Regions from separate parts of the Homo sapiens genome. Here region 1 is linked to region 2. The links come from fine-mapping of genetic effects on gene expression. A gene starts in region 2. The other region holds a variant in brackets. All regions are shown on one strand. Distances are between the middles of the regions. Region 1 has its middle 36 kb from the start of LINC01638. Region 2 holds the start of HPS4 (HPS4 biogenesis of lysosomal organelles complex 3 subunit 2).

Region 1 (2,910 bases), 780 kb after region 2:
GGACCTGGGCAAGGCTGGGGGCATGCTGTTTGCCGAGGTCTCTGCCTCAGCATGAGCAGATGACATTCCGGAGGCCTCCCCAGCCTTCTCCCTTCTCTCTCTGTTGCTGCTTCTTCCTCTGCCTGCTGGTTTTTTTGTTTGTTTTTTGTTTTTTGTTTTTTTCCTTACCTTTTGTTTCCTCCTTGGCTTTGTTTCAGGCCCTATTTAGTTCCTTGTTAGCCTTTCTCTCTTCCTCTTCTTTGTTTTTCCTTTGCCTGTTTCCTCCTGCGCGTTCCTCCACCCCATGGGCTGGCATGCTTGTCTATTGGCTTTCCTGCCCTCTGATGCCTGCCTGCTTTGTTCTTTTCCCCACCCTGCCTTCCTCCTGCCTCAGCTTTCAATTTCGTCCTTCCCAGAGCCCCCTTTCCTCCTGCCCATCGCTCCCCCAGCCTGGAGGGCATCTGCAGCAGCCAGCAATGGCTTGAGGTGAGGACGGAATCAGAGGTGCCCGCCACCCACCCTCACTTCCTTGCACAGCCTCCCACCCCTCCATCTAAATCCTTGATTAATCCCTGTCCTCATTTGAAGGTCAGAGATTAGATACATATCATTTTCCTCTCCAGGGCTGGAGCTGCTGGTCCCCAGGAGAGCCAGTTCCGAGTTACCCCCCAGGCACAGACGGAGGAGCAGAGAACTCGGTGTGTAATGAGCCGGCTTCGAGGTCAAGGGGGTGTTTAATACAGATGCAGATTTCAAAAGAAAGTAGTGAGGAGCTTCTTGCTCCTCTCCTGTGCAGCCCTCCCACAACAATGAGTGAGGATGCTTTGGAAAAAGGACAGTTCATGTGGAGCAAAGTGGAAAGGCAGCTTGAGTCAGGCACTGGCCTGAACAAACCAAGCCCCTCCCTTCTCTGGGCCTCAGTTTCTCGCATTTATCTCTTGCAATTCTTTGGAGACTTCAATGGTAGTTGCAGGCAGGAGGTGATAGGACAGGGTGGAATATGTTTATTGAATCAAACACTATTTATTGAACACCTACTATATGCCAGGCAGTGGGTGGGCACTGGCTACAGCCCTGAACAAGAAAGGCAGCTGATATTAACAAGATCATGTCAGATTGTGACAAATTCCCACAGTGAGCCAGTGAACTAAGACTAGATGCACCCCTTTCTACTTCTCTTTTTGGCTCTTGCTGGTGGCCATGTCTTGGGCCCATTTTCTGAGCCACACTTCCAATGGCTACAGGCCCCTCCCCTCCAGAATGCCCAAGGGCCCTGCAGAGAATCATTGTTTTTTTTCTGACTCTCTGAGCATCTCCCAAGAGCTGGTTGGGCAGCATCTGCCAGGCAAACCACCACCCTCCCCCCACCCCCCCCCCACCAGATTAGCTGTTCAGGCCTGCGTTTTAGAGCCTGAGCAATTAAAGCAGAATTAATTGGCTGGTAGGCAATCACCTTCCAATTGGAGCAGGGAGGGAGTAGGCGGGCCTGTTTTGCTGAGTCGACAAACTGAACACAATGCTCATTGACCAGGGGCAGTGGGGAGGGGGTGGCAAGGCAAGCTGGTGGGAATTAGAGGCATCCCCCTCCCCTAGCCCCGAGCCAAATGCAACAGCAAGCCATGGGGATCTGAGCATCTCTGTGGGGAA[T/C]CCAGCTTCGCTGGTGCGGAACTTTCTGGAATAGAACTTTGACTTTGCAACTTCAAAACATCCAATCCAAGGTTGTTTTTCAATTTGAGTTAATTTTTAATATCTTTATTCTCTTCCCAATCACCAAAGCAATACATTTTCTATTGATTTTTAAAAATCAAATATTGAAAATATGTATGACTTTAAAAGCCTCATAAAATTATACATCTGCATATATATTAGCATTTGATAGGAGAAAAATCTGCAAGAATATACACGAAACTGTCGACAGAAGCTAGCCCTGGTGTGTGCATGGAGAGGGGAATTGAAAGAAGCTTGGCTGCACGCAATATATTTAAAGGAAAATTTAATGGGCACCAAGATATACAGTGGTGTTTGTTGTTTTTCTTGTTATTTTGGATGATGTCGGTTGGGCTTTATTTTGGTTTTTGTTTGTTTGTTTAGTATTATAAAAATCAAACATGTTCATGGTGGAAAAAAAATACAGAAATATGTAAAAGACCCCTGAACTCCAGCCTCCCATTTCCGCCCGTAAGTGGTAACCCAACTGTGAGAAGCTCCGGTAGGGAAGAGTGTGGCTCTTGGGCTGGAATTCAGGCTCTTCTGTTTGCTGGCTGTGTGACTGTCTCCAAGTCACTTGCCTACTTTGGGCCTCAGTTTCTTCATCTGTAAAATGGGGAGGAGACATAATACTTTCCTTCACCTCCTAGGAGAATTGTAGGTAGAGAACTTTGCACAATGCCTGGCACACAGTAAGTGCTTAACAAATGGCAGCCATTAATCTTAGTTACTGCCAACCCTTTCTAGCAAGGTGCCAGCACACAGGTTTTTAAAGGGATTGATTCGTGGCATCAAAACCACCTAGGATGCAAGGGCCACAAACGTCTGCCTCTGTCACTTCGTTGCACCCAAGTAGGATGCCCAAAATAAGGTAGTTTTACTCTCAGGATACCTAATTTCCCTGCAACTCAAGACACTCAGAAAGAGTTGTTGAAAAATAGTATACGGGCCGGGCATGGTGGCTCACGCCTGCAATCCCAGCACTTTGGGAGGCTGAGGCAGGATGATTGTTTGAGGCTAGGAGTTCAAGACCACGCTGGGTAACACAGTGAGACCCCCACCTCTACAAAAAATATTAGAAATTAGCCAGGCATGGTACCTGTAGTCCCAGCTACTCAGGAGGGTGACATGGGAGAATTGCTTGACCCTAAGAGATCTGGGTTACAGTGAACCACAATTGTGTCACTGCACTCCAGCTTGAATGAGAGAGCAAGATCCTATCTC
Region 2 (2,910 bases):
ATCAGTGCCTTGGCTCTGAAATAAACACAAGGAATAGATATTTCAGCAACTCGTGAGAGAGCATGTGACCCAGCAGGATTAAACGAATGGTATATTTCAAAAGAGCTTTCTGTGAGGGTGACAATCATGCTTCAAAATCAAAGAGGGAGGCTTGCAGAGACTTCAGAGTAAGGGCTTTAGTTTCTCGAACAGTTAAGGGAAACACACCACAAGCTTCACGGAAGATAAAATCAAATGACAGGGTGAAAATGCTCTAGGTGTGGACAGCTATACAAATAAACCAGTTGCTGTGGTAATAATGGAACCCAAATTAAGGAACTGTCATCTTGACAGTCCAAAAGTAACCTGAACATGCAGAATTCCAGAGCAGGGCAAATTTCTAAAAAATGAAGAGAACTTTATCAAATGGCTTTCAAACTTCCACAAGAGAAAGACAGCTCAGTGTATCACGGAATTTCAGAGTCGGAAGGAACCCTGGCATCGTTTACTCTACTCTCCTGCACTCTTTTCCAAAAATTACCTTGGCTGTCTCTGCTTTACACCCTCCAGAGATGCGTGGTTCACTATGTTACATTTCTCCTTCCAACAAACTAAAATCTGCGTTCCAGATTTTACATCTGCCTCCCACTCGCTAGTCTGGATAACGCTCTGCAGGAAAACACAAAACAAGGTCTAATTCTTCCATGTGACAACCTCTTGGTCACTTCAAAACTATTGTCTAATTCTTACTGTCACTTTCTCCAAGCTTAATGCTTTAGCAACATGGTCTCAAATGTTTGCTCACCATTCTGCAATCTGTGGGTACACAATACAGTTTGTTAAAAGTCTCTAGAGACGACCCCCATTGAATATTTGACGGCCTGTAAAATCTCTATCTCTTCTCAGCTCTAGATATTTTGGATTGGGCCTCCACAGGACCACACTCATTGTATTCTATGGAGCATATTTGGGTGCCTGTGGAGGGGGTATCTCTGTTACTGGAACCAAGGACAGCAGCCTAAAACTCCCCATCCCTTGTTCCCAGAGGACTGGGCCCTACACTACCGAGGTCCTCTCTTATCTCTGAAAGGTCCAGAAGAGACCAATAATGGCCCTGGAGTAGGAAGAGACGTCGGAACATGAGCAGAAAAGGATCTGGTAGCCTGGGAAGTAATAGTAACAACGCGGGGCTGGGGCTGGTGATACTGCTGTGGGAAGGGGCCTCAGTGGGGCAGCAGGGCTGGAAAACGGACGCTAATGGCTGGAAAAGGGCCAGGAAGCTGCTGGGCGCAGCCCCCGGGGCGCAGGCAGCGACTGGTAACAGCACTAGGGCTGTGCGGTGTCTGGCCCCAGCTCTACGGGACTGGGAAATGGTGGGCGAACGCCTAAGGATTAGGCGGGGTCGGGTCACGCTCTAAGCTGGGGGCCCGCCCCTCGGTATCCCCGCGCTCCGAGCGCCGCCCACCCACCGGAGTAGCCAGGCATCCCAGTGCTCGGGGTTCGGGACTCTGGACCAGAAATGTGGGCAGCAGCTGGGTACCTGCGACTTCTGCCCCGTACCTGCGCGCGCGGCAGAGAGGCCTTAGGTCACGCGCCGCCCCGCCTACCTCCCCCTCCAGCTCCTGGCAAGCCGGCGCGCGGCGATGACGTGCCGAGTGCGCCGCACGCCGCTGACGTCAGAGACCAATGGCTGCGGCCGCAGCTGCGGCGCTGGAATCCTGGCAGGCGGCGGCTCCGCGGAAGAGGCGCTCCGCGGCTCGACGGCCGCGGCGGAGGGAGGCGGCGCCCCGGGGGAGAGAGGCGGCGCCCCGGGGGAGAGAGGCGGCGCCCCGGGGCCCCGAGGCGGAGTTCGAGTCTGACAGCGGAGTCGTGCTTCGTCGCATCTGGGAGGCTGAGTGAGTGCAGGCTCGGCCCTGATGGAATCTTTGCGCCCATGGGCAATTCTGAGCCACAGTCTCCCCATCTGTAGAGTGGAGATATAATGCACACCCTTTAAGGAGTTATTGTGAAGAGTTAACGTAGGTAACGAGCTCATTAAAGATGTGGATTATAGTAAGCGCTCAGTTAAAGGTCGTCTTTCCTTTTATTACGGTTACAGCTGCGTGACCTTGGACAATTTATAATCTCTGTGCCTCAGTTTTCTCATCTGTGAGATGGGGATGAAAATAGTACATACGTAGGTTTGTTTTGAGGATTCAATGAATTAGTAAACGGAAACCATTTTCTGGCACGTGGTAAGCACTGTGCCAGTGTTTGCTATTAATATTATGCCGATGTTGATATTATTGGTGGTGGTGACACGAGGGAAGCAACATGAACACGTGACTGCTATCATCAGGCAGCTGCTATGTGCCTGACATTAGCTTAATCATTCTACACACTTTATGTTAAACATTGCAGGCATACTAGGACCCTGGTAGCTCACTGATTCTCAAAGAGACAAAGAAAATGTGTGGAACCAGATTTCAAACCCAGGTCTTTGTGACAAAAACCAGTGCTTCCAGCTTTCCATTATGCTTGTTGCTTATCCCAGCCCAGATTCTCACATACCTTGCTCTGTACCTTAGAAAGTACATAGAGAGTGCCTAATACAGAGGAAACACTCAATAAATGTTACTTATTATTGTTATTTAGTATTATTATCTTTATTCGCAGTTTTGTTTAGGCTCAATAAATAACAGCTTTAGTTAGCACTTAAGATCAGCATCCGAAGGGCCGTCACAAGGGGAGAAATTAGATTAATTTTGTGTGCTCCTCTCCCCTAGAATTAGGGTCAAGAGGCAGTAATGTCCCAGAGTTTACCTCTGAAGAGAAAGTTGCTGACCATTTGGCTCAGCCTGAATAAAAAGCACCTGCGATTATTTTTAAGCTCTCAGAGGATGCCAGTGAGAGTGAATGTGCCTAGGGGTTTGGAAAACTCAAGGCATTTTT

Evidence for each region. PIP is the estimated chance that this variant, and not a neighbour inherited with it, causes the effect.
Region 1: its variant is fine-mapped to the expression of HPS4 in caudate (GTEx, PIP above 0.99).

The regions. Positions count from the first base shown.
Region 1 is chr22:27,259,037-27,261,946 of GRCh38, forward strand. No RefSeq gene overlaps it. Among named protein-coding and RNA genes, the nearest start is that of LINC01638, 36 kb to the left of the region's middle. RefSeq lists enhancers at 1-433, 434-934. The variant T/C (reference allele first, on the strand shown) is at 1,627.
Region 2 is chr22:26,482,226-26,485,135 of GRCh38, forward strand. HPS4 (HPS4 biogenesis of lysosomal organelles complex 3 subunit 2) reads right to left here and starts at 1,558. Exons shown (of 14, transcript NM_022081.6): 1 at 1,449-1,558; 2 at 1-15. It overlaps SRRD (SRR1 domain containing), which reads left to right and starts at 1,652. Exons shown (of 7, transcript NM_001013694.3): 1 at 1,652-1,874. The coding sequence starts at 1,666. RefSeq lists an enhancer at 1,606-1,725 and a silencer at 1,746-1,835.